7 separate regions of the Homo sapiens genome follow, and regions 1, 2, 4, 5, 6 and 7 are each linked to region 3. Evidence: fine-mapped expression QTL. A gene starts in region 3. Each other region holds a variant in brackets. All regions are shown on one strand. Distances are between the middles of the regions.

Region 1 (4,066 bases), 42 kb before region 3:
CAGAGTAGCTGGGATTACAGGCGCCAGGCTGGTCTCGAACTCCTGACCTCGTATCTGCCCACTTCGGCCTCCCAAAGTGCTGGGATTACAGGCGTAAGCCACCATGCCTGGCTGACTTTTTAAAATATGGCATCACTTGCATTATTATGAATGAAAATTAAAAGTAAATATCTTCAGCTTGTTCAATTTTTTTTTTAACTTTTATTTTACTTATTTATTTATTTTATTTTTGAGAAGGAGTCTTGCTCTGTCATCCAGGCTGGAATACAGTGATGCCATCTCAGCTAATTGCAGCCTCCGCCTCCTGGGTTCAATTGATTCTCGTGCCTCAGTCTCCGAGTAGCTGGGACTACAGGCACCCGCCAGCACGCCCAGCTAATACTTTGTATTTTTAGTAGAGACAGGGTTTCACCATGTTGGTCAGGCTGGTCTTGAACTCCTGAACTCAAGTGATCCACCTGCCTCAGCCTCCCAAGGTGTTGGGATTATAGGCGTGAGCCACCCTGCCTAGCCTTACATGTATATTTTTAAAGAACAATGTATATAGTTCTTGTAATTTAATTTTTAAATTTTTTCTCTATCATTATTATTATTATTTGATACAGGGTCTCGCTCTGTTACCCAGGCTGGACTTCAGTGGTGCAATCTTGGCTCACTGCAACCCCGGCCTCCTGGGCTCCAGTGATCCCCCCAACCTCAGCATCCTGAGTAGCTGGGACTACAGGCACGCACCACCAGGGCTAATTTTTAAATTTTTTAGAAACAGGGTTTCACCATGTTGCCCAGGCTGGTCTCAAACTCCTGGGCTCAAGCGATCCAACTGCCTTGGTTTCCCAGAGTGCTGGGATTATAGGCACGAGCCACCTTGTCTGGCCTATTATTTATCTTTTGATTGAATTTACTGAAAGGTGTAATGTGAAGTCTGTCAAGTTGAATAATAAAAATTTGGGCTTGTATTTTACATGCCTTTTCCCCCCATTTCATTTTTCTAGTAATTCATTTTTATCATACTTTACAGAAATATCAATCTGCAAGGGGTTGGTAATTTTAAAAACTGGTTCTTCAAACACAGTTTAGGAGGAGCTAGTTTAGGTTTCATTCTGTCAGTGTGCAGCAAATAGAATCCAGCTGTGGTAGAACGGCAGCACTCTCGGCAGGAAGCTACGGTAGAGTGATTAGGCTGTGTCTTAGGTCACTTGGCTTCTGTTGTTTTTCTCCATTTTCAGAGCCTCCAGCCTTTCCACGGATTCTGTAAGCTATGTGATTGCTTTCCAATTTTATTTTTATTTATTTATTTATTTTTATTTATTCATTTTTGAGACAGAATCTTGCTCTGTTGCCTAGGCTGGAGCGCAGTGGTGCGATCTCTGCTCACCGCAACCTCTGCCTCCTGGGTTCAAGCGATTCTCCTGCCTCAGCCTCCTGAGTAGCTGAGATTACAGGTGCGTGCCACCACGCCTGGCTCATTTTTGTATTTTTAGTAGAGACGGGGTTTTACAATTTTGGACAGGATGGTCTCGAACTCCTGACCTCAGGTAATCTGCCTGCCTTGGCCTCCCAAAGTGCTGGGATTACAGGCGTAAGCCACCGTGCCCGGCCCAATTTTATTTTTAGTTAAACAGTTTCATAATTTGTAACTAAGAACTCTGACTGGTGTACACTTTTTGTTCTACTTCTTTTGCTTTATCTCAGTCAATACTTTCCCACATTAAAGAACCAGCTGTGGCTGGGCGCGGTGGCTCACACCTGTAATGCCAGCGCTTTGGGAGGCCGAGGCAGATGGATCATCTGAGATCAGGAGTTCCAGACCAGCCTGGCTGACATGGTGAAACCCCGTCTCTAGTAAAAATACAAAAAAATTAGCTGGGCATGGTGGTGGGCGCCTGTAATCCCAGCTACTCAGGAGGCTGAGGCAGGAGAATCGCTTGAACTCAGGAGGCGGAGGTTGCAGTGAGCCGAGATCGTGCCATTGCATTACAGCCTGGGCTACAAGAGCAAAACTCTGTCCACCCCCCTCCAAAAAAAAAAAAAAAAAAAAAAAAGAACCACCTTTACCCTTTACCTCTCTTTCCTCCTTTCCACACTAAGCTGCAGATTTTGTTTCTGCAGAAGTGTGGACAGATGTTCCTGGCATCTTGTGTTTTTATAATGAAAATAATGTTAAATGGCCAAGTCAGTTTTTTGGTGTTCAATATTAGTCCAGGTATGAGTTAAATAATGACAAGTCTGGGCAACATAATGGGACCCTGTCTCTACAAAAATTAAAAAAATTACTCAGGTGTGGCCGGGCGGTGTCTCACGCCTGTAATCCCAGCACTTTCGGAGGCTGAGGCAGGCGGATCATGAGGTCAGGAGATC[G/A]AGACCATCCTGGCTAACAAGGTGAAACCCCATCTCTACTAAAAATACAAAAATTAGCCAGGTGTGGTGGCGGGCGCCTGTAGTCCCAGCTACTCGGGAGGCTGAGGCAGGAGAATGGTGTGAACCCGGGAGGCAGAGCTTGTAGTGAGCCGAGATTGTGCCACTGCACTCCAGCCTGGGCGACAGAGCAAGACTCCGTATCAAAAAAAAAAAAAAAAATTCCCAGGTGTGGTGGCACATGCCTATAGTCCCAAGTAGCCAAATCAGCTACTTGGCTGAGGCTGAGGCAAGAGGATCACTTGAGCTCCGGAGGTTGAGGCTGCAATAAGCTGTGATGGCACCACTGCACTCCAGCCTGGATGACAGAATAAAATCTTGTCTGAAAATAAATAAATAAAAAAAAATTAAATTTAAAAGTTAAATAATGGGCCGGGCGTAGTGGCTCACGTCTGTAATCCTAGCACTCTGGGAGATGGAGGCGGGTGGATCACATGAGGTCAGGAGTTCGAGAAGACCCTGGCCAATATGGTAAAACCCTGTCTCTACTAAAAATACAAAAATTAGCTGGGCATGGTGGGGCATGCCTATAATCTCAGCTACCCAGGAGACTGAGGCAGGAGAATTGCTGAAACCCAAGAGGTGGAGGTTGCAGTGAGCCAAGATTGTGCCAGTGCACTCCAGCCTAGGTGACAGAGCGAGACTCCATCTCCAAAAAAAAAAAAAAAGTTAAATAATGTATATTGAGTACTTACGTATCAAGTCTATACTAGGTGCTATGCCTCATTTAAACATCACAACAAAACTATATGCTAGGTATCATTACCCTCATTTTATAGATGAAAGATTCAGATAGGTCAAATCCCTTTATCAAAGTCACTTTATTGGTACAAGACAGAAATAAAACTCAAATTCAAAAGGAGATAATTACTTGGGAAGCTAAAATCGTTCCATCGGCTGTGTACAGTGGGTCACACCTGTAATCCTAGCACTTTGGGAGTCAAGGCAGGAAGATCGCTTGAGCCCAGGAATTTGAGAGAAGCCTGGGCAATATAGTGAGACCCTTTCTTTATTTTTTTAAAATTAAATAATTATCTTTAAAAATGAAAAATAAAAGAAAGAAAAATAACTCATTGGCAATTCAGGGACTTCTTACAGTTTATCTGAGATGGACCATCTATGTTACCTGTTACTTCTTACCTGTCAGCTTAGTATAGGCTTCCATGTCGTCAATTGCTGTAGAAATGCGATACTTTTTTCCTCCAGCACCTGTAATCTCTATGTAGTCATCTGCTTTGAGGAAAGCATCTGTAATCCTAAAAATCATTTTGCAAAAATTTATGTTTATGAGAAATTTTGAATATTTGCCTTATGTCTTACTTAAGGAAATCTTTCTACTTTAGGGAAACAAAATAATGAGGCACAGTGTTCTAAAGACAACTGCTTCTCCACCGTACTAAATTTGTGCTTGGTAAGCTGTGAGCTGCCATGCTTACTGTGTTCCAGGCACTGTCGCAGGGCTTTGCATTCACCATCTTATTTATTCCTCCCAACAATAAGGTAGGTGTATTCAGCCCTCATTTTATAGATGCAGAAATGAAGTAAATTTTGATTTAACCAAGTTAGGAAGAAACAGTGCCAGGCTTTGAAACTAGATATCTCTGAATTACAAAACAACAACAATAACAACAACAAAAACTCTTACCGAAGA
Region 2 (4,066 bases), 540 kb before region 3:
CTCCTCGATCTCCCAAAATGCTGGAATTACAGGCATAAGCCACCGCGCCCGGCCTATTCTGGACATTTCATATAAAGGGAGTCCTACCTTAGGTGGCCTTTGCCTCTGGCTTCTTTCACTGAGCATGTTTTTGAGGTTCATTCCTGCTGAGACATGGATCAGAACTTCATTCCTTCTTATGGCAGAATAATATTCCATTGTATGGCAAGTGAAGTGTCTGATACATGCTTCCCATGTTAAGAAACCAAGGCTCAGAGAGGCCAGCTGACATGCATAGGGTCACACCATGGGGAAGAAGTAGAGTGAGATTTATACCCAGGTCAAATAGGGTCCAGACCTGTTCTCTTCCCCCTTTAAGGATGCCTGGTTTACAAGCTCTTTCCTATCCAGCTGGTCCCGTTTGCCCCTCACAAGAGCCCCACACCGTTGGGATAATCATCTCCAGTTTCAAATGAAGAAAACTGAGATGAAAAAGGTGACTTGCCTGAGGTCACAAGGTGAGTTAGCCAGGACTGGGGTCCCAGCCCCCACAAGCACAACAACAAACCCTGCTTGAAAACAGCAGCCAAGGGGGTGATCCTGGTCCATCCAGACCCTGCTGGAATGGGAAGGCGGAAAGATGAGTGCCTGCGTCGTCCCCCTTCCCAGCCCTATAGTTGTCCCAGTGGTGACCTGGAGAGCCATCTCTAGGGCTGATCGGTGCCCGCCCTGCAGCTGTGGCCAGCTGTCCCCCACCAGCTCTTCTGCAAGGCCCCAGGAATGTCCATACCAGGGTGGTTTTTGGTATTTATTCATCAGCAAAAAGTTGTTTCTGTTGACTAGCACTTCTCCAAGCATGGCCAGGCTGCTGATTCTCCAGCCTGAGTGTGCAGAAAGCTCAGGATCAGGAGAACTGAGCCCTCCACCTGCTGTGTGACCTTGGGCAAGTGTCAGCCCCTGCTTGAGCCCAGTTAGCAAAGTGGAGCGTGAGAGAGTTGGATCAGACATGAGAGGTTTGGTGCTGGGTGACATTCCACAACTCACAGGCTTTAGAGAGTATTCCATGGGGGCTCCAGGGGGCAGAGGCCCTGTTCCTGTCCCCCTCCAGTTCCATGTAAGCCTCATGGGAAATGGCCACTAGCCATTTGTGGCCACTGGGCACTTGAAATATGGCAAATGCAACTGAAATTTTAAATTTAATTCTATTTAAGTTTAATCATATGTATAGAGCAAGTCTAGAGAGTTGTGCTCTGGGAATGCAAGGAGGGATGAGGGCCATGCAGAAAGAGCTCACAGCCCAGAACATACCCAACCTTTGTTGGTTCAAAACCTCCAGAGAGGGCTGGGCACAGTGGCTCATTCCTGTAATACCAGCACTTTGAGAGGCCAAGGCAGGTGGATCACCTGAGGCCAGGAGTTTGAGACCAGCCTGACCAACATGGTGAAACCCCGTCTCTACTAAAAATACAAAAATTAGCCAGGCATGATGGCACATGCCTGTAATCCCAGCTACTCAGGAGGCTGAGGCATGAAAATCGCTTGAACCTGGAGGTGGAGGTTGCAGTGAGCCAAGGTTGTGCCACTGCACTCCAACCTGGGTGACAGAGTGAGACTCTGTCTCAAAAGAAAACAAAACAAAACAAAAACAGAAACAAAACAAACGAAAACGTCCAGAGAGCGCTGGCCTAGGAGTCCAGAGGTCTGGGTACAAATTGCAGCTGCCACCAATATGTTGTGTGACTAGGCCAAATCTCAGTCCCTCTCTGAACTTCTAGATGGCTAAATAGAGACAGTGCCCGGCCCTGTCTGGCTCTAGAGCCCATCCTTCCTCTAGCACCCTGACCTCCTTGTGTAGGTGGGACTCATTGTTAGGGATA[G/A]TAACAGCAATACTTGCGTATTTGCTGTATGCCAGCCTCTGTGCTGAGAACCATCTGTCTGTGTTACCTCGTTGATCTCTCCCAACAACCCTTTGAGGACACTGGGGCTCAGGGAGGTTAGGTAAGTGGCTCAAGGTCACACAGCAAGTAAATGTTGGCACCAGGATTCAAACTCAAGAAGGCTGGCTCCAGAGCCACATTCCCAGCCTCCACGCCATACACACACATACACTATCTCCAGGGGCAGGCTCCTACTCAACCTCCCCTGGGGCCAGCAGAGGGAGTGGCACTGAAGCCTGGAATCTCAAGTGGTGGTCCCCAGGTGAGGCCTGGAGATGGAGGGGAGGGGCCAGCCATGATCATCATCAGGATCACCCTCTCATCCCCTCAACTCAGACTTTTCCTAGGTGAGGATGGGGGAACCTGATTCCCCAGGGGTTGAAGGGGTCTTGGCTTGGGAGTCCAGGGAAGAAGCTCAGACCAGACTCATATGCTTTATGTCAGCCACAGACCTGTCTTCCTTTGCTGTATGTCCCCATGGTCCTTTATGCTTGGGATGAGCGTATAATTCATTATCTAAGCCATGACTTATTTATTTATTTACTTACTTATTTATTCGGAGATGGAGTCTTGCTTTGTCGCCCAGGCTGGAGTGCAGTGGCATGATCTTGGCTCACTGCAACCTCCACCTCCCGGGTTCAAGCGATTCTCCTGCCTCAGCCTCCCAACTAGCTGGGATTACAGGCATATGCCACTGTACCTGACTAATTTTTGTATTTTTAGTATAGACAGGGTTTCACCATGTTGGCTAGGCTGGTCTCGAACTCCTGACCTCAAGAGACCCACCTGCCTTGGCCTCCCAAAGTACTGGGATTACAGGCGTGAGCCACGCACCCGGCCTAAACCATGACATTTTTGAGAATGAAACAGCACTAACCATCGGGGACTCCAGGACAGTTGGTGGAACCCGGGCGAACCAGGATGTCTGTCGCCCTCTCCATGCACCACCATGTATAGAGGGCCAGCTCTGTACAGAGTCGTTGCTTCTGGCTCAGAGGGACACTTAGGTTAATCTGTGACTCCTCAGGTGGGAGCTCCCATCATGGGGAACCCAGAGGAGGCCTTACCCCCGACTTTTAAGGTCAGGGAAGATTTCTTGGAGCAGGGTGTGTCTTCTCTGAGCTTCAAGGATTTTAAGCAGGGAAAGGCTTGGCTAAGGATAGGGTGTTTTAAGGAATGTTCTCAGGAACAGAAACGCCAGCCTAGCCTGTGTGGGATTCAGACATGGAGAAGAAGCAAAAAAGAGGTGTGGAGAGGCCTATCCATCAACTCCCTTCTCTCCCATCGGGCAGCTGCAGCTCTCCAGCTCCCCTCCCTTTGAGGCTCTGTCTGACTACCTCATTCATTGAACAAGTGTTGATTGTGCACCTACTAGGTGCCAACTCTACGCTTAGCACCAGGGATAGAGTGGAAAATGAAACAGGTGCGGTCCCTCCCCTCTTGGAGCTCACAGAGCGCGGGAGGCACTAATCAAGTATGTGAGGAGCCAAGCAGGATAATCAGAGACCCTGGTCAGGTTTGGAAAACAATCAGGAGGGGTGTTGAGAGAACGCAGTGGGAGGGAGGTGACTTCTAGACACAGGGGTCTGGGGTGGCCTCTGAGGAGGTGACGTTTAATCAGGGATCTAAATCAATAGAGGCAGCCGAGTATGTGAAGTGTTGAGGGGTGGATGGAACAGCATGGGCAAAGGCCCCATGGCAGGCAAGAGCTGGGAGCGCTGGGGAAGTAACTAAGGAGGAGACTGGCATGGCTTTGGTGGGCTGAGCAGGCTGGAGTTTGAGTTTTGTTTTTGTTTTTGTTTTTGTTTTTGTTTTTTCTGAGTTAGGGTCTCACTCTGTTGCCCAGTCTGGAGTATAGTGGCACAATCACGGCTCACTGAAGCCTCAACCTCCCAGGCTCAAGCAATCTTCCCGTCACAGCCTCCCAAGTCACTAGGACTACAGGTGTACACGGCTACACCTGGCCAAATTTTTTTAATGTTTTGGAGCGACAGGGTCTCACTATGCTGCCCAGACAGGTCTCAAACTGCTGGGCTCAAGTGATCCTCCCACCTTGGCCTCCCAAAGTGCTGGGATTATAAGCATGAGTCTCCGTGCCCGGCCTGAGACGAGTTCTGCCTGAGGGTAGACCTGGAAGCATTTTAGGGGTA
Region 3 (4,066 bases):
GCTTGAACCAGGCAGTTAGAGGTTGCACTGGGCCGAGATGGCGCCACTGCACTCCAGCCTGGCGACAGAGCGAGACTCTGTCTCAAAAAAAAAAAAAAAAAAAAAAAAGAATCCAACAGAAAAAGGGTCTTCTTTTATATGATAAAGGACGGGCAAGCAGAAATAAGCAGAATCTTTGGATAGGAACCTGGACGAGCAAGGGAAAATGAGCAGTGTAGCCCAACAGGACAGCATCCTACTGTGGTCAGCCGGTTCTCAAAAGAAACTGACCAGAGGGAGGCATATTCCACTGCTTTAGTGCCTGCCTGGTCAGATCTGGGGGTAAGCAAGAGTTGAGGGGCCCATAAGGGAAGAGAGAAGTCCGAATAAAGTTTGGTCAAGACAAAGCAGAAGCTAAGACATGAGCAATTGGGAACAGTTGGTCAGTTTTTACCAAATGAAAGCACATAGTGTCTTTGATAGCAATAGGTTGTAGGTTTAAGGAACACACATCATTCTGGAGGGTAACGAGTTAATCTACAAACCACTGAAACAGAGAGCCAACCACATTTTGAGACAGAAAATATGGAACTACTTCACTCCACTTGTTGCTAGTCAAAGAAAATAAAGTAATAATCCATCCCAGCAGTGGAGGGAAACGAAAGGGCAAAAGGGGGAAGAAAAAAAAAAAAGGAGAAATGCAATTTCCCATACCCATTCAAGCTATCTTTGGGTCCTGAACCACTAATGTTCCTCCTACCCCAGTTTCCAACCTAGCCAAACAGGGCCCCACCTAACAAATGCAAAAATTTACTAAATTTGCAAATCCCAACCACCAAAGAATCACCTTCCTATTGGACACCTAGAGGATATAAGGCAGGAGTCAAATCTCACACCCACCACAAAAAGTTGAGTAGAATTCACAAGGATGGATGCTTGGATACGAATCAGTAAAATATGATTAAAACTCAACCTAAACACTTCTCCAGGGGATGTGGCCAAACTGTGGCATGCTGGGGATTCAGTGGTCAACTGAACAACCCCAAGGTTCAGATTTTGGAGGGGAACCTGCTTTTAAAGAGCAAAACATGTTCCTTACCATGTTCTGCAAGTGCAGTCAACACACGCCTATCGGGCGCTGCTGGGATGCCAAGGAAGGTGATGGGAATTCAGAGATTAACCAAGCCAGTTCCTTCCCCTTCAGGAAAAGCCTCAATTCAGGGAGGAAACCGAAACCTAAAAGCCCCAGAACATCCTCTGATGTGGCAAGTGTTCAAGGAGCTGCGGTTAGCGCGGAGGGGTCCCGCGAGCCTGGATGACAGCAAGCCGCCCACCAAGGTCTGGGGAAAAATCTCCTTCTAACTAAAAAAAAGGGACCCGAGTCTCGCTTGTCCCGCGCCGGGGTGGCAAGTTAGTGAAGAAACCCACGAGAGTGAGATCCCAATCTACGACTGCCCCTCCCAGGTCCTCAATCCCGGGAGCCTGCTCCCATCCTACGAATCGCCTATCCCAGGCGACCCCATGTCTTCTTCCTCCGCCTCGGGGAGTCAGTCCCGGGAGCCCCATGCCGCAGGCCCTCCTGGGAACCCCCGCCGCAGGGCTCCCTCCCCCGCCTCGGGTCTTCCTTTCCTCGGCGCCCCCAGCGCAGGTCCGCCCTCCCGGGTGCCTCCCGCCGCAGGGCTCGCTCCTCGGCCTCGGTCCTCTCGTGGGGCCCCCTCCCTCAGGGCGCCTGGCCCGCGCCCCAGGTCGCCGCCCTTCGCCCCTCAGCCCCTCCGGAGCCGCTACCTCGGATGTTCTTCAGCAGCACCGGCTCTTCAAAGCCACCGCGCCTGAGGAAGGAGCACACCTGCTCCGGACCCCATGTCTTGTAGTCGGGATGGAGTTCCAGGCCCGGGGACCAGTCTGCCTCTGCGGAAGGGGTGTTTGAGGGGGTTCTCGGGCTGTCATCGCAACGGGGACGCTTGGAGGGCTGCTCGGAATCGGCTCGCTGCATGGCTACACCTGGCGTCCGGCACAGCAGTCAAGAACCTCGGCGCCGGACCCGCGCGCAGGCGCACTGACAGCAGGGCCCTGGCGGGGAGTCCAAGGAGTATTGGCAGCCTATTGGCCTCCTGCGCAGGCTCACTGACAGTTGAGCCCTTCGGGCAGGGCAGCCTAGCGGCTCTTGCCTTGGGCTCCCTGCGCAGGCGCAATGGCAGTCCAGTCGTCCTCAAATCAATCCCGCCAGGGCGCTGGACGTGAACGCGAAAGGGCGTGGCTAGAAGCAGAACTGAGGGCAGTGCTGGTGGAAAGGGGGAGGAAAGAGCGCGCCCGGCACCGCACCCCCAATTAGGGGCTCGTCTAGTGAATTGGGGGTATTCTCCTTCGAATGAGTACACTACCCGCCGCACCTTGGCCGGGTTTCAGATGCCCCAAACTTAAAAGAAGCCTAAAAGGCCGTCAGGCTGCCAGCACCTTCCCAGTGAAGAGGAAAACAGTCAAGGTGCTGAACTGGAAGAACCCGGAATGATTTCAAATGTGACTTGAGGGTGTCTTCATTCCACAGTATTGCTGGTCAACTAGAGGGCCCTGGGATACCTGTTGTCTGGTGTCCACACAGGAGGGGACTTCAGACTTCTTTCCAACTAGAGACAGAGCCCTCCATCCCAACTGCATTCCCAGAGGAAGGAAAGTGGCCAGTCTGATTACTTAAAATTTAACTTCTGAGGACTTTTACTGCCTGGTTGTAACAGCATGTGAAAATGGCAGGCATTTTCCCATCACTTAACCCCTCTGCGGCAGGGCTCAAACTTCCCTATAAATACTGGTCCATGCAATTGCCTGGTAAAAGGACATATCACTATTACTGTTAATAAAGCCAACACACCTTCCCAGCAACCAAGGCATAGACCTGTTTAGGGGGTCAAGGACGAATGAGGCGGAATAGCTTATCATCAAGCAGTATGAACTAGTGGTCTACTGGTGAGCCAAAATATTATTTGCAAACAGAGCTTTACTGTGTGCCAGGCACGGTTCTAAGGGCTTTACAAATATAAAATAATTTTATATTTATACATAATACTAAATGAATTAAGTACATTCATTAAATTATTTAAATATTAAATAATTTTTATAACTTCTAAGGGTTTTACAAATATTGTAAAGTTCTAAGGGCTCTACACATATTACTTCACTTAATTATCACAATTACCTTAGGATGTAGGAAAAAGTAATTTGCCGCAGGTCTTCTTTTTTTTTTTTGAGACGGAGTCTTGCTCTGTTTCCCAAGCTGGAGTGCAGTGGCGTGATCTCAGCTCACTGCAACCTCTGCCTCCCAGGTTCAAGTGATTCTCATGCCTCAGACTCCCAAGTAGCTGGGACTACAGGCGCCTGCCACCACACCTGGCTAATTTTTGTATTTTTAGTAGAGACAGGATTTCACCATGTTGGCCAGGCTGGTCTTGAACTCCTGACCTCAGGTGATTCCCACACCTCAGCCTCCCAAAGTGCTGGGATTACACAGCCGTACCCAGCTGCCCAAGGTCTTACAGCTAGGAAATGATGAAGCCTGTATTCAAACCCAAGAGATGTAACTTGGTTCCAAAGTCCATGGTCTTGATAACTTGCCAACCACTGCTTGTTAAAGGGGGTTTGGGGCTGGGTGCAGTGGCTCATGCCTGTAATCCCAGCACTTTGGGAGGCCAGAGCACTCACTTGAGGCCAGGAGTTCAAGGCCAACCTGGCCAACATGGTGAAACCCCATCTCTACTAAAATACAAAAATTAGCCAGGCCTGGTGGTGCATGCCTGTAATCCCAGCTACTCAGGAGGCGGGGGCACGAGAATCACTCAAATGTGGGAGGTGTAGGTTGCAGTGAGCCAAGATCTTCCCGTTGCACTCCAGCCTGGGCAACAGAGCAAGACTCTGTTTCAAAAATAATAATAATAAAAAATAAATAAATAAGTAAAGGGGGTTTTGATATAAAACTATTTTCTATTATTTAACCCACAATTTTCAATGGCTCCCTTTTCCTGCAGACCCATGGAGGAAAGTATAAAGGTGTTCCTGCCAGGCGCAGTGGCTCACGTCTGTAATCCCAGCACTTTGG
Region 4 (4,066 bases), 200 kb after region 3:
ACCTTCATTCATTCAATCAACCAATAAATACAGTGTCTGTTATATGCCAGGAACTATGACTGGCACTGGGGATATAAGCAGTCAACAAAAGAGAATATCCCTGCTTGTGGAGGTGATGATCTAGTTGGGGAAACACAAAGTAAACAAAATAAATATGTAAAATGTATTATGTATCAAATGATGATAAATGTCATGATTAACAAAAATTCAGGGGAAAGGGATAAGAATTATTATTTTAGGATGGTCAGGGAAGGCCTCACTAATATTGAAATGAGAGATTGATACCTGGGAGAAGAGTATTCTGGGCAGAGAGAATGGCAAGCGCCAAGGACTGAGAAGGTATGTTTGGTGTTTCTGAGGAACCATAAGTAGGTTAGGTTGGCTGCAGCGATGTTAACGATAGGGAAAGAAATAGGAAGTAGATGAAGAATGGGCCAGAAGGTGTCGCAACCTGTAGAACATTGTGAGGACTTTGGCCGTCGGAGGGTCTTGAGCAGAGAAGGGACATGGGTTGACTCACATTTACTCAATCAATATTGAATTGAGCATCAACCACATGGCCGATTCTGTGCTAGGCAGGCACTGAGGCTACTGTGCTGAACAAGACAAGTATAATTGCAAGGCACAGTGGCTCATGTCTGTAATCCCAGCATTCTGGGAGGCAGAGGTGGGAGGATTGTTTGAGCCCAAGAGTTTGGACCACCTTGGGCAATATAGTGAGACCCCCATCTGTATAAAAAACAAAAAAATTAACCAGGCATGGTGGCACATGCCTGTAGTCCCAGCTACTCAGGAGGCTAAGGCAGGAGCATTGCTTAAGGCCAGGAGGTTGAGGCTGCAGTGAGCTGTGATTGTGCTACTGTACTCCAACTTGGGTGACAGAGCAAGACCCTGTCTCACATAAAAAAAAAAAAAAAAGACAAGCATAATCACTGGTAGAATTTACATTCTATTAGTGGGAAACAGATAACACAGCAGTAAAGAAAGAATCAAGCCAGATAACCTCTGATTCTAGACAGCCCTAGGAAGGAGAGAGTGATGAGACAGAGAGCAAGCGTAGGTCTGTCTGTGGTGAGCAGAGGCCCTTTTGAGGTCGAGACATCTGAACACAGTGCTAAAGAACCAGGAGGGGCTGGCTCTGTGCAGAGCTAGGGAAGGTCATTCCAAGCAGAGAAGGCAGCAAGTGCAAAGGCCATGAGGCAAGATGAGCCTTATGTGGGAAGAAGGAAGGTAAAGGTGGCTGCTGTGTGATAAGTCAGGGGACTTAGGTGTAGAGAGGTAGACAGACCTACATCAGACATGACCCCGTATTCTAAGATCAGTTTGGAAATCACTGGATCAAAGAAGTGACATGGGGCAAAAAAAGAAAATGAAGAAAAATAAAGAAAACACAGGGGAGAAAACAAGGAAACAAAACAAAAGCAAGAATGACATGGGTCTGAAGAGGATGACTCTGGCTATATGTAGAGAACAAATTGGAAATGGAAGCCCCCACCCCAACACACTCATGCACAAAAAAGAACTTGGAAGGTGCCAGGCGCGGTGGCTCTGCCTGTAATCCCAGAACTTTGGGAGGCCGAGGCAAGCAGATCACTTGAGGCCAAGGATTCGAGACCAGCCTGGCCAACATGGTGAAACTCCGTCTCTACTAAAACTACAAAAATTAGCCAGGCGTGGTGGCCTGCACCTGTCACTGAATGACAAACAGTTAATAAGTTTTGTTTTTTTTTTTTGAGATGGAGTCTCGCTCTGTCGCCCAGGCTGGAGTGCAGTTGCGTGATCTCGGCTCACTGAAAGCTCTGCCTCCCGGGTTCACGCCATTCTCCTACCTCAGCATCC[C/T]GAGTAGCTGGGACTACAGGCGCCCGTCACCACGCCCGGCTAATTTTTTGTATTTTTATTAGAGACGGGGATTCACCGTGTTAGCCAGGATGGTCTCCATCTCCTGACCTCGTGATCCGCCCACCTCGGCCTCCCAAAGTGCTGGGATTACAGGCGTGAGCCACCGCGCCCGGCCCTAAGTTTTATAATCATAATATTAAGAACCCCCAAACTTTATCAAGACAAAAAAGGCCACTGAAGAATTACGCTCCTAGTTTGATTACTAAATGCTTCTTCAGCATTTCCTTTTTTATTCTTTATTCTTTAGATTTCTTTGAGAATATGAAAAAAGTTAGAGACCCAGATAATATATATTTGTCAAAACTCATTGAACTGTATACTTAAATTGGATAAATTCATTGTATACAAATTATACCTCAATAAAATTGATTTAAAAAAAAACTATGGACCTTCCTCAGAAAAATCCAGAAGAGGACGGGCGTGGTGGCTCACGTCTGTAATCCCAGCACTTTGGAAAGCCAAGGAAGGAGGACCACTTGAACCTGGGAATTTGAGACCAGCCAGGGCAACATGGTGAAACCCCATCTCTACCAAAATAAATAAATAAATAAATAAAAATTAGCCAGGCGTGGTGGCGTGTGACTGTAGTCCCACCTACTTGGAAGGCTGAGGCAGGAAGATTGCCTGAGGCCAGGAGTTCAAGGCTGCAGTGAGCTATGATGGCCCCACTGCACTCCAGCCTGAGTGATGGATCAAGACCCTGCCTTGAATAATGATCATCATAATAATGAGATGCCATAGGGGAGATGATTCAGAACTGAGAAGTGAGAGAGAGAAAGAGAAATGTGAGGATCTGAAGAGGTGCCATAGTACCACTCTCTTTGAGTTGCTGGGAGATATTGAAGTTGATTTATTTAAATTTGCCTGCTGTACTCAAATATAATACTATACAGAGACTAGCCACCATGGGCCTCAGGTATTTTCAGGTTATAGTTACTATATCATTATGTTCCAGCTGTTGTGTTAAGCAATGGAGATGCAAAGATTAATCAACACAGCAACTGGCCCCAAGCTGCTCAGGAGAAGAGCAGATAAGAAGACAATGCTAAGTGCTATGATAGTACATGAGCACGAAGGGGACACAGAACCAGCCTGGGGAGTTATAAAGAGGAGGAGAAATCGGCAGTGAGGGAATGGCTTTGGATCTTTCCTCCTCTGCAACTGAAGGGCCGCTCACCTTCAAGTTGAGATGTTTGGATAGGCACTTCAGAACTTGAGCCATGCTGGCCGTGGCCCGTTCCCGCTCATGGTCTTTGACTGACTGTAACCAGGGGACCAAGTGCTGTGAGAAATAAAGGGAGGCTAAATGGTTTATCAGGAAGATTTGGGATACCATCCTTATTGTGTTTAGAAAGAAATGTGGAGTGACAAGTTCCATGTTGCTACCAGATCTCAAAATACTTTGCTAAATGCTATTATAGCTCAGGTTGGAAATAAAAGTGGTAGAATGACAAGCAAGGCACAAAGACATGGGTGGTGGGTGGTTTGGTTGTTATATAGGAGCTTAGGAGCTTCTTTTCTTTTTTTTTTTTGAGATGGAGTCTTGTTCTGTTGCCCAGGCTGGAGTGCAATGGTGTGATCTTGGCTCACTGCAACCTCTGCCTCCCAAATTCAAGTGATTCTCTTGCCTCAGCCTCTCGAGTAGCTGGGACTACAGGCACTCGCCACCACGCCCAGCTAATTCTGTATTTTTGTAGAGACGGGGTTTCACCATGTTGGCCAGGCTGATCTCGAACTCCTGACCTCAGGTGATCTGCCCGCCTTGGCCTCCCAAAGTGCTGGGATTACAGGCGTGAGCCACTGTGCCTGGCCAGAGCTTATTTTCTAGACTTACTTTCTCTTCAGCCCAATTCTTCAATTAATTATTCTGTACTTCTGAATGTTTTTAGCTCTTTCAAATCTGCTTTGGAAAGAAATAAAGTTAACAACATGCTACTAATTTTAAAGTTTAACTCTGAGGACAGCCAGGTGTGGTTGCTCATGCTTGTAATCCCAGCACTGCCGGAGGGATTATACTGACTGCTTGAGCCCAGGAGTTGGAGACCAGCCTGGGCAACATGGTGAAACCCCATCTTTACAAAAAAATACAAAAATTAGCTGGGCATGGTGGCGTGTGCCTGTAGTCCCAGCTGCTCGGGAGGCTGAGGTGGGACGACTGCTTGAGCCC
Region 5 (4,066 bases), 950 kb after region 3:
ACCTGTGTTCTGGAGTGGGGAGTGGGCTGTCGGAGGGGTTGACCCTGTTCGACGGGGACGGGGAAGAAAGTCTGAGGGTCTGTCCACGGTGTGAACCCTAGCATCAAAGGGCCAGTTGAGACGCTGTCCACGGTGCCCAAAGGATGGGCCCGGGTGGGGCGGGGGGCGGGGGGCGGGGGGGGGGCTGGCGCTGTCCTCCTCCGTGGTGCTGAAACCGGGAGGACCAGGCTGTGTGAGCAGGGAGGCCTGGGGAAGGGCAAGGGATGAGAGCAGGAGGGACCCCGCCCAGGAGTCAGGGGCCTCGCCCGACTCGCCGTGGGACCTCAGAGAAGCTAATTACCTGATTTCAGGCGCTTCCTTATCTTTTAAATGGGACCACAGTTCCGCCCTCCTGTCTGTCCCATCAGCCCCAGTAACACGGCTTGGGAAGGAACTGGAGGACTTTGTTGGATTCTTGCTCTTGGGAATGGGAATGGTGCCCTATCCCCCTCCCCTGCCACACTCACACACACATACACCCACGCATACGCGCGCGCACACGCACACGCACACACACACTCATGCACACACACACCATCAAGGCTCATTGGTCTAGGGAAGGAGCCTACAGTCCAGAAGGGGGCGATCCCATCCACCACATAAGGTCCAGTATCTTCAAGAGCCAGGAGCCGCAACAACTAACTGGCCTGTCTCTCTCCCATTACAAAGACTCGAAAACTGAGTCCCAGAAAGGGGAACACCGACAATAATAACTACTGAGCTCCTACCACGTAGGCAGCATTATGCTAAGCGCTTTGCATGCACGATTTCGCAAATCCTCACCAGGACCCCCGCAGACAGCTATTACCCCTATTTCTCAGATGAAGACTTCGAGGTTCAGAGAGGGGTAGACACCCGGACGCGATCACACAGCGAGCCGAGGTCGGCGGCAGAGCTATCACCAGGTCCCCTGGGTCTCAGCCCAGGCTCCCACCCTACCTCGCCCTCACCCCCAGCCCCACTGGCCCCTGACCCCGGCCCCGCCCTGCCGGTAAAGTTAGGAGCCTCTGAGTGCGCTGGCCTGGCGGCGGGTGCCCTGGCTTTTCTCCCTCTCCCCGCTGGACGGCATTTCTGTGGCTGAAGCCCGTTGGGTCGTGCTTTGCGGGAACCGCGTCCCTGGGGTGGCTCTCTCCGCCCCATCCCGGCCCCGCCTCCGCACTCGGGCGGGGGAAAGTTGCGGGTACCGCTTTAAAAATCCCAGCCTGGGCAAAACTTTGATGATAAATCAAGCGGCAGATCCCTCCGCCGCCTGCTCCGAGCGGGAGGAGGGAGGGGAGGAGGGAGGGGAGGAGGGAGGCGGGAGGAGGGAGGAGGGTGCGGCGGCGGCGCGGCGTGGCCTTCCGCGGAAGGGAAGAGTCCCGCAGTCGGAGGCGGCCGGCTGGGCGTGCGCTCGCTCCCCGAAGCCGGGGCTGGGCCGGAGCCGGGCGAGGGCTGGGAGCTGGGCCGGGTCCGGGGACAGCGGGCGAGGGGCAGCTGCCGGAGCCGGGCAGCCAGGCCGCTCAGGGCAGGGGACAGCTGGCGCCGGTTCTGCGGTCTCCGGGGCCCAGATGTGAGGCGGCGGCGCCCCCGGCCCGAGAGCGCA[C/G]GATGGGGGCCCCGCTCGCCGTAGCGCTGGGCGCCCTCCACTACCTGGCACTTTTCCTGCAACTCGGCGGCGCCACGCGGCCCGCCGGCCACGCGCCCTGGGACAACCACGTCTCCGGCCACGGTGAGTTCGGTCGCCGCCCCCGCGGACTTCCCCACCAAACCCCAACCCGGGCCGCGCCACTCCAACTTGGCCGCCCCGGGGCTCGAACCGGCGCCAGTCGTGGCGGGCATCCCGGGGCGCCCCCTGCCGGCGCGGTGGACCCGCCCTGGCACCCTGGCCCTGCAGAGAAGGGGGCACCCGGGGCGCACCCCCGAACCTCCTCCCCACACACTCGCGCGGATACGCACACCTGCATGGCCACACCGATATGCACAGCCGCGGACACACTCAGAGCCACAGTCGCTGCTTTCTCACACTCACAACTCCTACCCTGCACATCTCCACACACCTCAGGTCCCCCTCCTCACTGCAAGCCTTTACACTTATGCCCACTACACACGCACATCAGGCACTGCGCCGGTGGGCTCACTCTGCCAGCTGGCGCACACGCTTCGCCACAACTCTTGCCTGCCCACCTGCAGACACACTGGTGCGCGCGCGCGCACACACACACAGGCACACACATACACACACATGAACACAATTTGCTCACCCACTCCTCTCTGCCCATCTGCCTTTACTCTTCTGGGTTTAACCGCACAGAGGCCCTTGTCCTCTTCCTCTCCACACCCAGCCCTATACCACTGGAAAGGTCCTTGGGGGCAGAAGACCTTGTTTCTTGAGAACTGGTCGCCTGGGGCTGCAGCCTCCCAGTTGGGCGGGTGGCACCTGGTGGAAGCCCCTCAGAGCCACCGGAGTAGTTGGGGTTGCTGCTTGCAGCCAGAGGCATGGGAGTGGGAGTGGAAGTGGAATGCCGGGTGCTTTTGTCTGCCTCTGGGGATGGGCAGGAAGCCGTGCCATCCTTCCATAGGGTACCCCCATCCTCATCCTCGGCCCTAGAGGACTGAAATGTGGGAAATCTCAACTCCAGCCGCTGTGGAAGCCGGGGAGCAGACAAGCATTCCCAGCACTGGCTGGCTGAGTGTCAGAAGCTCCTGCTAGCCCCGAAGGAGCCCAAGTTGGCAGCAGAGTTGGACTGTATGAGCCCGGCAGCTGTGGGGGCTCCCCCTGACCCCTGTGAGCCTGGCTCTGGGATGGAGGCTCGAGCATAGATGAAACCAAAGGAGACCTTTCTTCCATGCAGCCCTTCACTAGACAGGCTGACAGCCTTGTTGGGGAGGCTGCAGCCCCAGTGCTGGGCACTGTGGGCCCAGGGCTGTGGGGAGGTTTGCACAAAGGCCAGATAATTGGATGATTTATTCTGATGGGAGTGAGTGGGGGTAAGGCAGGGTAGATAATCAGGGAAGGTTTTGCTGGGGTATGACACATGAGTGGGATTGCTCCAGTGGAGAGGGGGGCTTCGAAGCCATCCTCAGGGTCTCTGCTTTTTGGGAACCATGACTCCCCGCCCCCTTCTGCCTCACCATGTTTGGTAGTAACTGCTGTGTGCATCATTTACATACCCTTCATGCCCCTCACCTCATTTCTACCGACCTGGCTAGAGCGGTGGTAAATAAGGAAAGGGTTCTTTTGATCCTCAACTTACAGATAGGGAAACCAAGGCTCAGAGAGGTGAAGGAAGTTGCCCAAGGTCACACAGTAAGAGAGTGACTGAGCCAGGACAGGCCCCAGGGTCTGTCAGGCAAAGACAGCGCTTTTTTCCAGGACATTCATCTCCCTGTCAGATTCCCTCCCATTCTAGGGAAACTGGGAATTCCTCCCTCTCCACCCCTCCTCTCCTCGCTCCGCTCAGTCCCTTGGCACAGTTGGAACTTACACTAGGAGGGGTTTCCATGGAGGGCCTTCCCTGAGTTTGCAGTCCCGAGGGGTATGAGGAATGGGACTCTGAGGCTTATGGTCGTTCTGTCCCTAGAGCACCAGACCCCAGGGACTTGGGTGCCAGTCTGTTATTCCCAAGGCCCCAAGGTGGCTCCCCCCCATAGAAAAGCAGGGTCTGTCTGCCCTTTGTGTGACAGTCTCTACCTGTCCCCTGGTGCCAGGTAAGCTGAGGGGGCACAGCTCTGCCCAACCAGCTGTAATCTCCCCTCTGCACCCTGGAAGGTCAAGCTAAGGCCCAGGACAGGGGCTAGATGAGAAGGAGGCACCCCTAGTTGCTGGGGAACCTGGCTTCTCTCCTGAAACCCCCGTGTGGCTCTGGGCAAGTGAGCCACCCCTCTGGGTCTCCCTGTGTCCCTAAAGAAACAAAGAAGCCAGGCTGCTCTGCAGGGGCCAGGCTGCCTTCCCCCGACATTGCCAGGTTCAAAGTCACCAAGTAGTGACTGCCGAGGAGCCCCCACAGCTGCCCCTCTGCCGTGCCAAGCACCCGCCACCACAGGAAGGGTT
Region 6 (4,066 bases), 810 kb after region 3:
AGCTGTGACCAGGTGCCAGCTAGGCAAACTGCCTTACATGTGAGGAAACCCAGCTGCAGAAGTGAAGCCTCCCGCTGGGTCGCTCAGCCCGTCCTGTGACAGCTGATAAAAGAGACTGCATGTTCTGATCCCCAACACAATTCTGTTTCCACTGCCCCAGATTCCCCAGTTCACTGGTGATCAGAAAGGGCCACAAAGCTGCAAAGGCACCCCAGCTGGCCAGCGGCAGAAGTGCATCTAGTCCAGCCCCTACCCTGATACCACCTGTGGAGCTCTGTCCACCTGCAGAGCTGTATCCCTCCTCAAGGCTCTGTGGATTGTTCTTCTTCTGTTGTTTCTCTTGTCTTTTCTCTCTGGTAAGAATGTTAGTATTGGTTTTGACTCAGTTAGCAGTTGATCAAAGATTACTCCAGCCACTAGTATTAGAAGCACCTGGGCTGCTTGTTTGGCTACTTTCTAGTCCTACCCAAGACCCACTGAATCAGAATGGCTGGGCCTGGGGTCCCAGATGATCCCGAAACCCCACTGCTACACTGCCCACCCCCTCCTCACCCTTTCTCATAATGTTCTCGACACTAGAAATTTCCCATGTGCCGTGCTTGCTGTTGGCATTTGGTGTGAATGAAGGGGTTGTGAACCCACTGGTTATGAAGAACTGGCTCTTACAGAGAGTGAGGCTAGTGTCCAGCAGGGCCATTTATGACCGAATATAATGAAAATTTCTATGGCCATTTTTCTTTCAGGCTCCTTTAGAGAGCAAACTGCTACTTTTGTAGAATTCAGGGCATTTATTTTTCGTTTGAACCACTGTGCAGAAAGAAGAGGATGATGTTGGGATGTCGTTTTGTTTTGAGGGGCGTCTGAGGAAAGACTGTGGCACTTGCTCCTACTCTGTGTCCCTGCAGTGTCGTTTGTGCAGTCTTACCTTCCAGAGGTTAATTACATGGCCCTGAATGAGCCTTCCTGCTTGGTCCCTGGGCTGATTTTAATTACCATCCTTTGCCTGTCTGAATAGGGAAGACGAGAGAGGAACAGCTAGCCTGGCTGTTGCATGTAAAACATACCCAGAAACAGCAATTCACTCAAAAGCCCCCTTTGTTTTTTCTGTGTTGTCAAGCCCACTGACAAAAGCTGCATCTTGGCAGATTTTATTGTTTGTTTGGAAAGAAACAGTTCACCCTCAGTCTGGGGAGCCACTAGGTAACTGCTATACAGGATGTTCTGTTTGTTTAGTTTAGTTTTTATTTTTATTATTATTATATTAGTTTAAGATTTTGACTCTTACAGGTTTATCCTGGTGGGGCTGGTAGGAATCACAAGCATTGAACATTCCTGGACTCCAGTAGATTATTTGCTTGTCTGCAACCAGTCGGAAGTCATCAGTAAATATCAGAGAACAGAACCAGCGGTGGTCTTCCATTTACTTTTTTTACTCTTGGCTGCATTCAGGAAGAAATTTGATAAGTACTCTCATATTACAAGGGTTGAGTTGTCTTTGTAGTTTTAATTTGAGGCCAATATCTGAGGCCTAGAATTGCACGAGCAGAGGCTAGAGGGCATGTGGCAGAATTTATTGTGGTGTGCAGTTTGC[A/C]GTTATTGCTTTGGTCTTTTTCCCAGTTGGAAGTCCTAAGCAATAGGATGGCACATTTGTGGGGAAAGAACACTGTCCTGGCATTCTCAGGGATCTTCGGGGTTTTAAAATTTGGTTCATATCCACTGCTGTTACTTACGCAAAAGGCAAATATTTGTGCTTTGTAACAAGTTGATCTGGTAGCCTGGAAAATGGACTCTTTTCTGAAGAGTGGTAAGCGAGAGGGTATATTGCTTTGATGGCAATTCTCTGGCTTACCTCTCCAAAGATGACTTTGGACTTCTTGAGAATGATGATTAAATTACAGTCATTTTTCTACTTGCCAGTCCCCAAACTTGCCATGTGCTAGGTAGTCCCATGCCTTCGCTCATGCTTTGCCTTCCACTTGCCTAGCCTTGCTTCTCTGGGGCTACCTGGAATACTACCTCTCATCCCTTTATCTCTTCCCTTTTGAGTTTTTTCCAGACTCATCACCTCAGCAGGATGTGTTGTTCTAGCACTTTGTACATTCTGGCACTTGTCACATTGGATTATAGATGTCTGTTTATAAGTTTGTCCTTCCTGAGGTGTGATCCCCGTCAGGGGAGTGGTCAGAGCAGTGACTTTGTCATTTACCAATTCTGTGTCCTTGGGAAAGTTACTAACCTCTCCATACTGTTTCTTTCTCTGTAAAATGGAGATAACAGTAGTGCCTATCATACAGTACCAAAGTGATGAACAAGTGAGATATTTAATAAGTCTTTAGAACAGTCTGGCACAGAGTAAACACCTGATAAATGTTGGCCATTATCATTATAAAGGTACTATGCCTGGCAGATATTAAGCATTTAGCAAATGTCAGGTTAAAATTGTATGTATCATCTACCACACAGTGAGATGTCTGTGAATATTGAGTTCACAAACATTTTTTTCAGTTTAAAAAATATTTCAAAAACATTTTGAACAAACACTCAATAAAACCACATTTGGATGGGGTGGGCCTAAATAAGAAATGAGAGGATAGAGCTTTAGTTTAAAAAAAAAAAAAAAGGAAGAAGTAAGTAATGATAATACAAGGCAGAACATTGAAAACAGCTATGAGAGGGGCAGTGTTCTGTGGACATGAAGAGAGAGTGCTCGCTTCTGATGGAATAATCAGGAAGGGCTGCAGAGATGCAGGCATCGGTGATGGCCTCTGAAAGGGGGCTTTAATATGAGAGCATATGGAGGTGTCCCAGCCAACAGAGATGGAAGTGTGGCTGGGTGGTGTAGCTGGCCAGTGTCTAGGAGCCAGCATTTGCTTTATAGAAACGCTTTATAGAGTTCCACAAAAAGTGGCTTTGATGTGGACTGCCAGGGGACTACCCTCCATACTCATTCCTGCACTAAATTAACTCTACTGAAATGTTAAACTTTGAAGCCCTATCTTGGTTTGCCTTGGACTTGGTTGGCAATGGATTTGTGCTGCCCAGGTGAGGCTGAGGTTGGCCAGGTTTATGTTGCTGTAAGGGTACTTACTATGAAAATTCCTGGATTCTATTCCTTCCCATTTCCATTCATGTTCTCACCTTCATCTGTATTTGTTCCAAAGCAAAATTCATTTGTTCATTTGTTCACTAAATGTTTATTGAATGCTTGATGTGTTCCTGATTGTAGGAACCAGCTATATAGCTGTGAGCAAGCCTGACAAAGCCTCTGCTTTTGTGGAGCTCACAAGGTATGAGTGTAGGGAGAGACAGTAGATACATAAACAAGAAAACTATCAGAGAGTGGTTCTCTGTTTAAGAGAATTAAAATAGAGTGATGTGATGTAGAGTAGCTGGGAAGTCAGGTTGGATTAAATAGTCAGGCAAGGCCTGAGTTCTGGAAGAAACCAGCCATTCAAAATGATCAAGAGCAGGATGGGAAAAGGGCAGAAGACCTAAGGCAAGACTGAGGTTGACATATTCAAGGAACAGAGAAGGGGCCAGTCTTGTTAATGTGCAGCTGGGGCGAGGGGAGAAAGCAGAGTCAGGGCCAGACCACGCTGGGCTCTGTGGGCCTTGGTGAAGAGGTTGGGTGGCATTGCCAGGGTGAAGGGAAGTAATTAGAAGATATAAGCAGGGGAGTGGTGTCATAGCCTGACAGCATTTTAAACAGAGCATCTAGCTGCTGTGTGGATAATGGACTGGAGGGGCAAGAATGGAAGCTAAAAGGTTACAGCTAGGATACAACAGGCCTGAGTTTTGCATTATGACCATGTTACCATATTATTCTCAAAACTTGTTTGATCAAGATTCAGTGGGTGTGGGGTTTTATTGTTATTACTGTGTTTTAAATATGAAATTCCTGAAACTCCTAGTAGGCAGAAAAATCCCAATCTCATTCTTGAGAAAGCTTATTGGCAGATCGTACCAGATAGAAAAAGAAGCCTCCTTCAAACCCTCTCATCTGTCTCTTTTTTATTTCCTCCTCTTCTCTTATATCCATCCTCTTTGGTCAAGTGGAAGATGATGT
Region 7 (4,066 bases), 25 kb before region 3:
AGGAAGGAAGGGAAAAAGAGAAAGAATGAGAAAGAAAGAAAGTGAGAAAGAGAAAAAGAGAGACAGAGACAGAAGGGAGAGAAAAGAAAAAAAAAGAAAAGAGCATAAATCAGGAGGAGGAGGTGATCACAAAGAGGAGGTGATAACAAAAGTTGTTAGTCAGGAATGTTCACTGGCTTACAGAAATAACATTAGTTAGTGATTGGCTACATATTATGAAGTACAGGATATATGGCATTTTATGGTTACCTGGCATCCCACATAACAGCTGGCTTCAAGAGATAATAATTATTTAGCTCAAGGGGGCGTGACATGATTGCTGTTCTATTTCAATGCCTCTCTGGGCCTGATAATGTAAAGGGGCTCATATTTCTCAGATAAAAATTTCTTTTCTTCTTTTTTTTTCTTCCCCAAGTAACAAGTGTGGAAACAGAACAGAATGCAGAATGATTCATCATATATGGGAAGTTAATAAATGTTGGGGTTGGTATTACAGTCAGTGGGGATAGGATGAACTATTAAAAAATTAGATTTCTCGGCCGGGCACGGTGGCTCACGTCTGTAATCCCAGCGCTTTGGGAGGCCGATGTGGGTGGATCATGAGATCAGGAGTTCGAGACCAGCCTAACCAACATGGTGAAAGCCATCTCTACTAAAAATACAAAAGTCAGCCAGGTGTGGTAGCACATGCCTGTAATCCCAGCTATTCAGGAGGCTGAGGCAGGAGACTCGCTTGAACCCAGGAGGTGGAGGTTGCAGTGAGCCAAGATCGCACCACTGCACTCCAGCCTGGGCAACAGAGTGAGACTCCATCTCAAAAAAAAAAAAAAAGAAAAAAAAAGATTTCTCCCATATACTTACACAAAAATAAATTGTACACGAGCTAAGGATTTAAATGTGAAAGGCAAAATGCTTAAAGGAATAGATTTGGTAATGATTGAGAAGATCCTATTAGATCAACTGCAGAAGAAAACAACTATAAGCTCTGGACAACTCCCTGAAGGTCCTGGAGAGAGACCAAAACCAAGTGGATGTTAGACCTCAATACTTAGAAGGGAGAGGTGCTGGGTGACATTCCGGTTTTATGGTTTTTTGCCTAAGGGCAGGCCCCAGGACAGAAAAACTGGTGAGAAACTACCCATTTTACTGGCTTGCAGAACCAGAGTACTTCATCAAAATTGAAAACGTCTGTTTTTCAAAAGGCACCATGAAAAAATGAATTGGCCAAGCCAGACACTGGGGAAAAATATTCACAATACATATACCTAACCATATATATACATAAAGAATTCCTACAACTCAGTAATCAAAGAGCAAGCAATCAAACTTTTTAAACGAGTAAAATGTTGAGAGTTCTTTGCAGAAGAAGATATATCAATAACAAAGTACAAAGTACAGGAAATAGTATTCAACATACATTAGAAAATCAAACCATGAAATACCATTTGACACTCATTAGAAGGGCTAATTTGAAAGGTCAAATGTTGATGAGGCTGTAAAACAACTGGAACTCCAGTATGTTGCTGATGGGAGTGTAAAATGGTACAACCGCATTGGAAAACTCTGGTAGTTTCTTATAGAATTAAATACATATCTACCATATGACCCAGCAATTCTA[G/A]CTCCTCGGTATTTACCTAAGTGAAATGAAAATGTATTTCTTTATTTTATCTATTTTTATTTTTATAAAATAATGTATTTCTGCTGAATGTATTTCTTGTTTTAAAAATGTAATTAACTTTCCACACTACAACAACATAGAAAATGTATTTCTACCAAAATCTTGTACGATAATATGCACGACAACCTTATTTATAACAACCAAAACCTGAAAACAATCCAAATTCCAACAAAACAAGAAAGGGTAAACAAATTGTGACTTATTTGCATAATGCCACACTACGTAGGCGATAAAAAAAAGGATCAACTACTGAGGCACATAACATGAACAAATCTCAAAACCATTATGTTGAGTAAATAAAGCAAGGCATAAAATAGGACCTCCTATATGATTCTGCTTAATCAAGTCTAAGAACAACAAAATTCATTTATGTTTGTAAAAATCAGAAGGTGATGGTGGGGTGAGGGGGAGTGAGAATTGACTAGGAAAAAGCACATGGGAATTTTTCAGGAAGATGAAAATGTTCTATATCCTGACTGGGTAATAGTCATATGGATGTATACGCCTGTCAAAACTCACTGAACTTAAGATCTGGACAACTTATTGTATGTGAACTATACCTCAAAAAAAGAGAGAGAGAAAAAAAAAGTGGTTGACATGTAAGAAGTTTTCAATATATATTAATATCCTTTTTCTATTCCCGTTCCAGAAATACAGTGTAGTAAAAACCAACCTAATTTTACTTCTCAAAAATTGATTCCAAAATATGGGACAGCCACCTGCAAATGCCTAATTTTAAAATGATTCATTTAATATATATGACTTGGCTGGTAAGTTAGTTCGTGGTCATACCAAATGTGTCAAAACTGGAGTTGGCCTTTTATTATACAGTAGTACAATGGAGCAGAAGGAGTATTAAACTGGCAACTGGTTTTGTATTGCTGATTCCAGTATTTAACGGCTTTGTGATTTTTGATGCATCAATACACATCCAAGAGTTTCAAGTTCCTTTATTTGTAAAAAGGGAGATAACGATAACTTCCTTACAGACTACTGTGAGAACCAAACAAAAGCATATATATATATATGTGAATGAAAGCACCCTGGACACTGTAATGGGGAAGTATTTTATAACACAGTAGTGGAACCAAACAGATAAATTAACTAAATAACCTGCTTAAATAGTCTTTCTTTTTATTGACTATTGACTGTATGAATACATACCGTCCATTTCACCTCCGGGCGAGCAAGTGGAATAAATCGTCCATCAAACATGTGAGAAAATGGCCCATGACCTTAAAAACAAAAGCAGCCTTAGAACAAGAAAAACATCTGTAAACCAACAAAAACTTTTTCCTTTTTTTTTTTTTTTTTTTTGAGACGGAGTTTCGCTCTTGTTGCCCAGGCTGGAGTGTAGTGGTACAATCTTGGCTCAACACAATCTCCGCCCCCTGGGTTCAAGCGATTCTCCTGCCTCAGGCTACCGAGTAGCTGGGATTACAGGCGTGTGCAACCACATCCAGCTAATTTTGTATTTTTAGTAGAGATGGAGTTTCTCTACGTTGGTCAGGCTGGTCTCGAACTCCCGACCTCAGGTGATCCGCCCGTCTCAGCCTCCCAAAGTGCTGGGATTACAGGCGTGAGCCACCACACTCAGCCAAACTGAATTCTTTAATCTTTTTAGTTTAACTTGAATAGCAAAAGAAATTAATAATCTAAAAATACAATCACAAAAAGGGACAAACCCTTTCTTCCTATTTCTAAAACAGGAGAACAGGAAGCAGAAACATGGAAAAGTAAGCTCTCCATCGAGCAGTCTCCAGTCACCAGGTTTTACATAAATCTGATAAAAGGGCAGTTTTTGTTGTTTTTTGAAGAGACAGAGTCTTGCTATGTTGTTCAGGCTGGAGTGCAGTGGCTATTCACAAGCATGATCATTATGCACTGCAGCCTTGGACTCCTGACCTCAAGTCATCCTCCTGCCTCAGCCACCTGAATAGCTGGGACTACAAGCATGCACCACCACACAGGGCTTGATAAATGGACAATTCTGTGTAACTAAAAAGAATGTTAATGCCAAAAACTTTTTGAAATCTTCAGATTGAAAATATCTGGATTAAAATAGCAGTTTCAAGAAAATCCACTAGGGCCAGGTGTGGTGGCTCATGCCTGTAATCCCAGCACTTTGGGAGGCTGAGGTGGGTGGATCACTTTGAGTCAGGAGTTCGAGACCAGCCCGGCCAACATGGTAAAAACCCTGTCTCTACTAAAAATACAAAAAATTAGCCGGGCTTGGTGGCGGGCACCTGTAGTCCCAGCTACTCGGGAGGCTGAGACAGGAGAATGGCGTGAACCTGGGAAGCGGAGCTTGCAGTGAGCCAAGATCACACCACTACACCCCAGCCTGGGTGACAGAGCAAGACTCCATCTCAAAAGAAAAAAAAAGGG

What was found.
Region 1: its variant is fine-mapped to the expression of SAMHD1 in whole blood (TOPMed, PIP above 0.99).
Region 2: its variant is fine-mapped to the expression of SAMHD1 in whole blood (INTERVAL, PIP 0.95).
Region 4: its variant is fine-mapped to the expression of SAMHD1 in whole blood (INTERVAL, PIP above 0.99).
Region 5: its variant is fine-mapped to the expression of SAMHD1 in whole blood (INTERVAL, PIP 0.98).
Region 6: its variant is fine-mapped to the expression of SAMHD1 in whole blood (INTERVAL, PIP 0.98).
Region 7: its variant is fine-mapped to the expression of SAMHD1 in whole blood (INTERVAL, PIP above 0.99).

What each region holds. Positions count from the first base shown.
Region 1 is chr20:36,907,663-36,911,728 of GRCh38, forward strand. It overlaps SAMHD1 (SAM and HD domain containing deoxynucleoside triphosphate triphosphohydrolase 1), which reads right to left. Exons shown (of 16, transcript NM_015474.4): 11 at 3,556-3,671. Among named protein-coding and RNA genes, the nearest start is that of TLDC2, 34 kb to the left of the region's middle. The variant G/A (reference allele first, on the strand shown) is at 2,359.
Region 2 is chr20:36,413,665-36,417,730 of GRCh38, forward strand. The region is part of intron 2 of DLGAP4 (DLG associated protein 4); the gene reads left to right. Among named protein-coding and RNA genes, the nearest start is that of DLGAP4, 110 kb to the left of the region's middle. The variant G/A (reference allele first, on the strand shown) is at 1,857.
Region 3 is chr20:36,949,672-36,953,737 of GRCh38, forward strand. It overlaps SAMHD1 (SAM and HD domain containing deoxynucleoside triphosphate triphosphohydrolase 1), which reads right to left and starts at 2,037. Exons shown (of 16, transcript NM_015474.4): 1 at 1,765-2,037. The coding sequence starts at 1,972. RefSeq lists a silencer at 1,532-1,751.
Region 4 is chr20:37,151,987-37,156,052 of GRCh38, forward strand. MROH8 (maestro heat like repeat family member 8) reads right to left here. Exons shown (of 25, transcript NM_152503.8): 9 at 3,077-3,181. Among named protein-coding and RNA genes, the nearest start is that of RPN2, 25 kb to the right of the region's middle. The variant C/T (reference allele first, on the strand shown) is at 1,840.
Region 5 is chr20:37,901,728-37,905,793 of GRCh38, forward strand. VSTM2L (V-set and transmembrane domain containing 2 like) reads left to right here and starts at 1,400. Exons shown (of 4, transcript NM_080607.3): 1 at 1,400-1,744. The coding sequence starts at 1,624. The region is part of intron 2 of LOC124904896 (a long non-coding RNA gene); the gene reads right to left. RefSeq lists an enhancer at 700-1,663. The variant C/G (reference allele first, on the strand shown) is at 1,622.
Region 6 is chr20:37,758,383-37,762,448 of GRCh38, forward strand. All of the region lies in intron 5 of CTNNBL1 (catenin beta like 1), which reads left to right. Among named protein-coding and RNA genes, the nearest start is that of CTNNBL1, 66 kb to the left of the region's middle. The variant A/C (reference allele first, on the strand shown) is at 1,592.
Region 7 is chr20:36,924,340-36,928,405 of GRCh38, forward strand. SAMHD1 (SAM and HD domain containing deoxynucleoside triphosphate triphosphohydrolase 1) reads right to left here. Exons shown (of 16, transcript NM_015474.4): 6 at 2,843-2,913. Among named protein-coding and RNA genes, the nearest start is that of SAMHD1, 25 kb to the right of the region's middle. The variant G/A (reference allele first, on the strand shown) is at 1,619.